Linked DNA regions of Homo sapiens. The protein of the gene in region 2 interacts with the protein of the main gene of each other region in a biochemical or structural test. Each region holds a gene or a part of one and is shown on either strand. Other genes may lie near its edges.

The links. Proteins that work in one complex are often made in the same cells at the same time.
Region 1: the proteins of ACAD10 (region 2) and PEX5 interact in a test that uses a peptide from one of them, tested with the Homo sapiens proteins (one study listed by BioGRID).

What each region holds. Positions count from the first base shown.
Region 1 is NC_000012.12:7,195,179-7,200,295, reverse strand, and holds part of PEX5 (peroxisomal biogenesis factor 5), read right to left. Parts: intron 1,286-5,117; coding exon 1,183-1,285; intron 1-1,182.
Region 2 is NC_000012.12:111,744,072-111,749,408, reverse strand, and holds part of ACAD10 (acyl-CoA dehydrogenase family member 10), read right to left. Parts: intron 4,767-5,337; coding exon 4,366-4,766; intron 3,266-4,365; coding exon 3,125-3,265; intron 2,361-3,124; coding exon 2,223-2,360; intron 2,115-2,222; coding exon 2,024-2,114; intron 1,093-2,023; coding exon 934-1,092; intron 237-933; coding exon 64-236; intron 1-63.

The DNA of each region.
Region 1 (5,117 bases), about 100 Mb from region 2:
CACCCATCGTCTGAGATGTGAGGAGCGCCTCTGCCCCGCCGCCCCGTCTGGGATGTGAGGAGCGCCTCTGCCTGGCCGCGACCCCGTCTGGGAGGTGAGGAGCGTCTCTGCCCGGCCGCCCCGTCTGAGAAGTGAGGAGACCCTCTGCCCGGCAGCCGCCCCGTCTGGGAAGTGAGGAGCGTCTCCGCCCGGCAGCCACCCCGTCCGGGAGGGAGGTGGGGGTCAGCCCCCCGCCCGGCCAGCCGCCCCGTCCGGGAGGGAGGTGCGGGTCAGCCCCCCGCCTGGCCAGCCGCCCCGTCCGGGAGGGAGGCGGGGGGTCAGCCCCCCGCCCGGCCAGCCGCCCCGTCCAGGAGGGAGGTGGGGGTCAGCCCCCCGCCCGGCCAGCCGCCCCGTCCGGGAGGGAGGTGGGGGTCAGCCCCCTGCCCGGCCAGCCGCCCCGTCCGGGAGGGAGGTGGGGGTCAGCCCCCCGCCCGGCCAGCCGCCCCGTCCAGAAGGTGAGGGGCGCCTCTGCCCGGCCGCCCCTACTGGGAAGTGAGGAGCCCCTCTGCCTGGCCACCACCCCGTCTGGGAGGTGTACCCAATAGCTCATTGAGAACGGGCCATGATGACAATGGCGGTTTTGTGGAATAGAAAAGGGGGAAAGGTGGGGAAAAGATTGAGAAATCCGATGGTTGCTGTGTCTGTGTAGAAAGAAGTAGACATGGGAGACTTTTCATTTTGTTCTGTACTAAGAAAAATTCTTCTGCCTTGGGATCCTGTTGATCTATGACCTTACCCCCAACCCTGTGCTCTCTGAAACATGTGCTGTGTTCACTCAGGGTTAAATGGATTAAGGGCGGTGCAAGATGTGCTTTGTTAAACAGATGCTTGAAGGCAGCATGCTCTTTAAGAGTCATCACCACTCCCTAATCTCAAGTACCCAGGGACACAAACACTGCGGAAGGCCGCAGGGTCCTCTGCCTAGGAAAACCAGAGACCTTTGTTCACTTGCTTATGTGCTGACCTTCCCTCCACTATTGTCCTATGACCCTGCCAAATCCCCCTCTGCAAGAAACACCCAAGAATGATAAAAAAAAAAAAAAAAAAGAATAAAGTAAGTTGGTTCGAGAACGTGGATGGAGGAGGCTGGGAAAACTGTCCATACTCCTTTCACGGGATTCGGAAAGAGGTATCTGAACTCACCAGCGATCGGTGGCTGTTCCCTCAGGTTCTCCCAGCCACAGCTTCTCCTCTGATTGCTCCAAATATTCCTCAGCCCAGCGGGCAGGGGACACAGACAAGGGGTCTGCAAGGAGCAGAGAAGTGGGGAAATCACACAGGTTCATTCAGTGTGGGATCAAGGAAAGGGAAAGAGATGCCCATATTCAACTGACCCTCTTAGCCACACCAAAGCAGACAAAACTCTGCTGACTCCCTCAGAAACCCCTGGTCAAAAGAATATAGTACTAAATTTTCAACATCCTCAATATCCAACCCATTCTCAAGGAGCCTGGGGCAGAAATTTACTGAGAGTTGGGAACGGGAGATCAAATAAGGAATCTCAGGAAAGGATTAAGAACCAAACTCTTTTTCTTGAAGTGCAAGATATTTCAATAAGAAATAGGAAGCGGAAGGGCTTTCACTTTCCTCAGAAGTACAGCAGGGAGCCAGTAAGGAGTGAAGGGAGCACAGAAGGGCTCCTGTTCCTTAACCAAGGCACTGGTCTGTTCTCCCTCTACCCAGAGTTCACACAATCCCGGCCAAAGGAGCCTTATTTCATTGTAATTTGCCTACCAAGAGAATCAGAGAAGTGGAATGCTAGGCTAGAATTAAAGACACATAGGTCTGCTCTTCCCTATGGATGTTTGGTGGGTTTTTTCATTTTTTAATTGAAATGTAATATACAAATATGAAACCATATAATGTCTACCAAACTTAAGTGTACAGCTAAATTAACTTCCACATTTGATACACTCACATAACCACCACCCGGATCAAGATACAGAACGTTTACAGTTCCCTCACAGGCTCCCTCAGTCTCCCAGCCCCCAGAAGTAAACACTATTCTGACTTTTCTCACTTTTGATTATCTTTGAGTAGCTATGTTTTTTCAGTCTAATTTTAGAAACTGTCTCAGAAGCTCTAGTGACAAAGGGGACTGCTGCAACATCAGAATTAACCTATCAAGGCAACAAACTCAATGAGGGTGCTGAACTGTTTTTCATCCTCCAGGACTTTGCCCTTTACTATCCTGTGGCCAGAAAAAAAAAACAAGGAGACTGACTGCGGGCACTAAAGAACACAAGGAAACAAAGAGAAGGCACAAGCCTACGGTGTTCTTTCCTTCTGCCCTGTGTCCAGAACTAATCTTACTAGTTAGTCTGCCACCACCTTCCCCTGCTATTCCCCACTCCTGGCCCATGACAAGGACAGTTCCCAAGGGGGAACTCCACTCTCTTGTTGAGAACCTACTAACTCCAATTTGCATTAAAGAGGGACATTTGGGCAGGGGTGTGAAAATATTAGCTGATACTAGCAGTCTTTGTCCCCAGTTTCAAGATCTGACCACCCTTGCTTTTACTACCCCTTCGGTATTAAAGTACAAAAACTTCTACTCCATTTTAACTGAAACTTTGCCTGAATAATGTCAACAAAGTAGTCTCAAAATCTGAGCATGAAATGTCAAAATGTGAAAAACAAAGATCAAGACTCTCAGAATACACCTAATTATAAATAATAAGTAATTACTACTTATTATATTATATATAACATATATAATTACATTATATATAACATATAATTATTACATTATATATAACATATATAATTATTATATTATATATAACATATATAATTATTACATTATATATAACATAATTACATTGTATATGACATATAATTACATTGTATATGACATATATATAATTATTACATTGTATATGACATATATAATTATTACATTGTATATGACATATATAATTATTACATTGTATATGACATATGATTACATTATATATGACATATATAATTATTACATTATATATGACATATATAATTATTACATATGACATATAATTATTACATATGACATATATAATTACATTATATATGACATATATAATTACATTATATATGACATATATAATTACATTATATATGACATATATAATTATTACATTATATATGACATATATTATTACATTATATGACATATATAATTACATTATATGTGACATATATAATTACATTATATGTGACATATATAATTACATTATATGTGACATATATAATTACATTATATGTGACATATATAATTATTACATTATATGTGACATATATAATTATTACATTATATGTGACATATAATTATTACATTATATGTGACATATAATTATTACATTATATGTGACATATATAATTATTACATTATATGTGACATATATAATTATTACATTATATGTGACATATATAATTATTACATTATATGTGACATATATAATTATTACATTATGTGACATATATAATTATTACATTATATGTGACATATATAATTATTACATTATATGTGACATATATAATTATTACATTATATGTGACATATATAATTATTACATTATATGTGACATATATAATTATTACATTATATGTGACATATATAATTATTACATTATATGTGACATATATAATTATTACATTATATGTGACATATATAATTATTACATTATGTGACATATATAATTATTACATTATATGTGACATATATAATTATTACATTATATGTGACATATATAATTATTACATTATATGTGACATATATAATTATTACATTATATATGATGTAATTATTACATTATATATGACACATAATTATTACATTATATATGGCACATATAATTATTACATTATATATGACACATATATGTATGACACATAATTATTACATTATATATGTCATATATAATTAAATTATATATGACATATATAAATTATGACATATATAATTAAATTATATATGACATATAATTAAATTATATATGACATATATAAATTATGACATATATAATTAAATATGACATATAATTAAATTATATATGACATATATAATTATTACATAACATATATTACATTATATATAATATATAATGTAATAAATACATTATATGTAACATATGTAATAAGAAATACATTATATATAACATAATGTAATAAGAAATACGTTATAACATAAGAAATACATTATATATACATTATATATAATGTAAAATGTATATATAATATATATAATATATAATGTATAATGTAATAAGAAATATGGTTGGCAATTTTTTTTGACCATAGATCCATCTGTTAATTTCAAGGACTCTCAAAAATTAAATACAGATTCTGCTCACTAGCTCTTACAGGAAGCATTTCTCTTCCATTTGCCCCAATTAGACTGTTGCCTCAAGTGTGGAGACGGAAAGGAGATGCTTAATACTCAAAGAGACTTTAAGATCTCCTAGTTCCTTAGTTCCATTCTTAGTTGAAATTCTTAGCTCCATTCTGTTGAAAAATAACTACTACCTCCTCAACTCTCCAAACACTTCTAACTCTCAACTAGAGTATTTTGCAAAAGCATATTCTGGCCATAAGTGCTCCTCAAATTCACAGAAAACATTTCAAATTCCTATGAAATGGTCCTCTCAAGGACAAAAAAAAAAAAACAGAAAAAACACAAAGCACCTTTGAATTTTTACAACAGACATGAGGACTTAACAATAGATATGAGGCAGTTTAAGAAAAAAAATCCCAGAGCTGAGAAAAACTATCCTCAAATACCTATAATTTGGTAGTTGGCCAGATTAAATCGCCACAAGACCCAGAATTTCTTGGCATTGGGAACCTACTCCAACAAGAGTCAAATAACCGAAAGAATCAAAAGAGTAACACACTGCCTTCACAATCTTTGAGAAATTCCTACAGAAAATCAGATCCATGTGGATACATCTGAGATCAAGGCAACTAAGGTCTACAGAGGGGATGCACTGCCTGAGGTCATACAGATTAGTAGAGTGAGAATAACCTAGACACCAAATACCCCACTCAAAATGTGCACCTCATATAATTTCTCGTTGTTTACTCATTCCTTCTAGGCACAT
Region 2 (5,337 bases):
TCCGACAGCAAAGCAGAAGGTGGTGGTTCTGAGTCAGTGCTGGGTGCGGGGGAAAGCACTCACGCGGGCCTTCATGAGTGCCAGGGCCCTCTCTGAGAACCCGATCAGCCTCATGCAGTGATGGATCCTGCCGGGGCCCAGTCTGCCCTGGGCGATCTCAAAGCCTCGGCCAGGGCCCAGGACCATGTTCTCTTTGGGCACACGCACGTGCTCAAATCGGACTTCACCATGGCCACCTGAAAGACCCAAACGATCACTGTGAGCAATAGCCATAGTCATTTTCCTTGGATGTGTTTATTCCTCACCTCAGTCTGGGTTATCTGCTGGCAATGTCCCTGCCCTTTATTTAGCCTTCTTACTGGGACATGGTTAAAGGGAAAAGGACGGCAGGAAACAGCCTGTTAAACACAGAAAATGAATCACTGATTTATAATGGCAAATGACTATTCTGTGATTCCTTTTATAAAAACATAATAATGCCACCTTAAGCTGAAGCTCCTAGTGGTTTGTGACAATGTAGTGATCCTATGAAAACACTGAAAGTAAAAATGTGAACACTATTAGCAGAGAACCAAACTGGGAGCGGACCAAACCAGGGCTGTGGCCTAGAGGTCAGCTGTTCACACTGGGGCCTGGAAGAGTAGGTTTGGGGTCCACTTCCTGCGTCTGCCCTGTATGGCTTCCTGTGTCACAGACTCCTGATTACTTTCTAAGTTTAGAAGAGGGAAAAAAATCCATAAATGCCTGTCTGAAATCCGCCTGCATGGTTGATATTCATGTATGGAAATGAAATGCAGGAGCATGTGACTCCAAATGTCATCATACCCTCAGACGTGGGATGTGGCAAGTCCTGAACAAGAGCAGGGGCCCCTCAGTGGTGTTTCCTGGGGACCAGACCCACACCCAGGGGTGACCCGCCCCTGGAGGTCTCACCTGGTGCATCTTCCAGTCCATACACCGTCAGAGGCCGGATGATTTTTATCCCTGGGGTATCCATGGGAACCAAGAGCACAGACTGCTGCCGGTGTCTTGGTGCATGTGGGTCTGTTTTTCCCATAAACACACAGAGTTGGCAACGAGGATCCAGGATGCCTGCCAGGAAAGGAGAGAGACAGACCCCATCATCTGACACCAGGGCCATCAAATCTCTACACACGTGGTCCTGGCCCAAGAAAGGCACAGTAAGGAAGCAGACAGAGCTCTTTAAGGCTCCATGTAATCAGATGAGCATCTGCAGACTGCTGACCAGAAATAAGAGCAAATTGGGTTTTGTCCCAGTGAGGAATGAATCCAACATCATAAGAGCAAGTTTTTAAAAGCATCACATAGAGTAGAAAATATAATTTAGAGACAAGAGGATGAAAACCGCTACTTGATCCCTGCCAGCTGGCTCGGCTCCCACAGGTGGTGCACACATAACGGCTCTGGGCCCGGGCCTTGGAATCAGGTGAACCTTTGACTCTGGGTTCTCTACTTGCTGGCTGGGGGCTCATACCCCAGGCAAGGGACCTAAGTCTGAGTGCGGTTTCCTCCTTTGCAAAATGGGGATGCTCATTCTTAATGTCCAGGGAGGTATGGGCTCCGGGAGGTAAGCTCCACGGCTACTTGTAGGGGCCCTGCAAAAGTAACACTGGACAATCCCTAAAAGTCAGGATTGTCATTAGCCCTTAGGATGTAACACACCTGATCGAGGAGCCAGGAAGCCACCAAGGAAGGGGAGCTGCCCAAAGCAGAATGAACAGCAGGAAGTGGAGAGATTCCTGGGGTCACATGTGCAGGGAGGCATCCGTCCATGTGTGGGCACCGGGGGACGTCCCTGCCCTGTGAAGTGCCACCTCTGAGAACAGTGTGCTCCACGGATTACCCTCCTATTCTCCCAGCTGCCTCTGCTGGGGGCGCTAAGTGACAGAATCTCCTTTGTGTCAACTTGAAAAAGCAGAGGCTCCTCCCAGGCATTGAGAGACGCGCCTAACAGCACAGACTCCCTGATGTGCATTTGGAAAGTGCATTTTAGGCCAAATACCTGTGATCCACCATTTGTGACCGTTTATGACATAGAAGCTGTCCTCCTCTCTGATGGAAGCCTCAATGTTGGTGGCATCTGAAGAGGCAACCTGAGTGGGGAGCATATTCCAGTCAGAGACGCCAGCAGACAGCCCGTGTTCCCTGTGGGGCCGACAACAACAGGGCCAGGCAAGTGGGTGGCAGCCCAGGCGACGTACCTGGGGCTCGGTCATAGCAAAACAGGAGCGGGCTTTCCCCTCCAGCAGAGGAATCAGCCAGCGAGCCTTCTGCGCTTCGGTGCCATACCTCACCAGCAGCTCCATGTTGCCCGTGTCAGGCGCAGAGCAGTTACATACCTGAGAAGGAAAAGGAGCGTGACCATGACTGTCATGTCCTCTTCTAAAAAAAACAGAGTCAAGCTCTGTCACCCAGGCTGGAGTATCGTGGCACGATCATGGCTCACTGCAGCCTCGACTTCCTCAGCTCAAGCCATCCTCCCATGCCTCAGCTTCCCAAGCAGCTGAGACTACAGGTATGCACCATCACACCCGATTAATTTTTTATTTTTTTGTACATACAGAGTTCTATGTTGCACACGCTGGTGTCGAACTCCTGGCCTCAAGTGATCCCCCACACTTCGGCCTCCAAAAGTACCGGGATTACAGGTGTGAGCCACCATGCCTGGCCTTCTCACATTAATATTTCAAGCTTCAAATTGGATGGGCATGGTGGCTCACGCCTGTAATCCCAGCACTTTGTGGGGCCAGGGTAGGTGGATCACCTGAGGTCAGGAGTTTGAGACCAGTCTGGCCAACATGGTAAAACCCTGTATCTACTAAAAATACAAAAATTAGCCAGGTGTGGTGGCACATGCCTGTAGTCCCAGCTACTTGGGAAGCTGAGGCAGGAGAACCACTTGAACCCAGGAGGCAGGGGTTGCAGTGCGCCAAGATTTCGCCACTACACTCCAGCCTGGGTGACAGAGCGAGACTCCATCTCAAAAAAAAAAAAAAGTTCAAGTTCATGCCAGTGCTTCTGAATCTGGTTTATCTGTTTAGGATTGAGTTCTTATGAAGATCAGGATGTTCCCACACACTGAGGAAAACTTTAAAGAAGGTACCTCGGGGGCATACAGGGACGTGCCCATGAGCTCACACAGATGTGCATATTCCACATTGGTCAGTCCTGCTCCGTATTTTTTCTCGGGATCAGCCTCTAAGGGTAGGAAAAGGTTCCAAAGTCCTTCAGCTTTGGCTTTCTCCTATCATGGGGAAAATAAGTCAGGAAACCACAGTGGAAGATTTCATTTTATTTTGAACCGTGGAAAACAATGAAAGGGATTGGAGGAAACAAGGCAGACAACCAAACATGCACGTGTGCCCAAAAAAATGATATGAGGAGCTGGGCATGGTGGCTGTGCCTGTGGTCCCAGCTACACAGGAGGCTGAAGTGGGAGGATCACATGAGCCCAGGAGGTTGAGACTGCAGTGAGCTATGACCACACCACTGCATTCCACCCTGGGTGACAAAGCGAGACCCTGTCTCAAAAAAAAAAAAAAAAAAAAAAAAGAGAGAGATGGTGGCTCACGCCTGTAATCCCAGCACTTTGGGAGGCCGAGGCGGGCGGATCACAAAGTCAGGAGTTCAAGACCAGCCTGAACAACATGGTGAAACTCCATCTCCATTAAAAATACAAAAATTAGCTGGGCATGGTGGCACGTGCCTATAATCCCAGTTACTCGGGAGGCTGAGGCAGGAGAATCGCTTGAACCTGGGAGGCGGAAGTTGCACAGAGCAAGACTCCGTCTCAAAAAAAAAGAGAAAAAAAGAAAAGTAGATGATGATTGCATTATGCTCCTGAAGATCTCAAGTAATTTCAAAACTAACACAATCCAAGGTTCACGTGATAAGGAACAGCGGGTGTTTCTGTTTATCAGCTGAAGTGACAGCACTGGGAGACAACACAGAAACTCAGCTCACAGTGGATCTGGCCCTCTAGCTGTGATATTACGGGTTCTCTAGAGAGAGATTTATTAGCTGATACAGCACTGTTTCAAATTTACATAATTCAAATACCCATCAGATAGGCCTAACCTGCCCTGGCTTTCTAAGGCCAAGCATTCCACTGCCTGGGCTGTGCAGTCACACCTGAGCCATCTGCCTGTGACACAGGCACAGCAAGAGCAAGAGATGGAAACTGAGTCATGAAGAGCTGGCTCTTTCTGAGACGATGGAAGCAAAGATCATTCAACTCGGAGCTCCTGTATCTTCACTGCCTGGGATGGTTCAGGTGAGCCCGGTGGGGTCGGGGAGGGTATGCCATGGTATTGGGGTCTTACCACCTCACCATGGCTGCTTTACCTTGAGGTCTTCGATCAGTGGGGAGGGGCTCCACCTGGCTGCTGAGGCCTGGTGACTCTGCAGCTCTGGCTCTGCAGGGTACACACGTTGCTCCATGAAGTGCTTCAGCCGGTGATACAGCTCTCTGACAGGTGGAGAGAGGCTCTCTGGAGAGATAACCAGACCTCCCCTTGAGGTATGAGCTGGGGAAGCTTCTGGAACGGAGCTATAACTCCTGCTGCCTGTGGGGCACCACTGGGACTGGGGCCTGGCCCACGTGTGGTAGGACCTTGTTAACGGATTTGTGAAGGGCATCTCTTTGAAAACCCGGAACCCTTCTTTGACTGCGAAATCCCACGCCAGGTTAGACACAAATTCGGTCAGCTTTCCAGTTTGTTCCGCATATGTGGAGCTTGCTTGCCCTAAGCAGAATCAAAGAAAAACAGTGATTACTCCCACACGACCCATCATAGGGATGTTAACATGTGATGACACTGTCACTTCAGCAGCTATTGCCATTTGCTGAGCACTTGCTAAGTACCAAACACTGTGCTAAGAGCCACTATAGCTCACTGAATCCCCAAAGCAATACAACTGCTTTCACCTGCACTTTGCACGCAAGAAAACTGAGTCTTAGAGAAGGAGGTGACTTGGACGAGCTGGAAGTTAGGGGGCTGGGGGCCAGAGTCCAACTTAGGTCTGCCTGCTCCCTGCTCTTGATCTCTGCTTTCCTAAAAGACTACATTTAATCAGTAACACCCCAGATCACCTCTGCCGTTGCCAGTGGGCTATAAGAAGTCCTGCATCCTAGACCACCCTTGCTACAAAATTGATAACAGCAATGCCACAACTGACTAAAGGAAGAGCCAACTTCTAGACACCACTGTCTCTGGAGGGAATCAACACCAGCATCACTCAGCTCACTATTTGGCTCTCACAGCGTCTCTTTCTTCTTGTAAAATGTGCATCAAGACTTTTTTTACAAACATATTT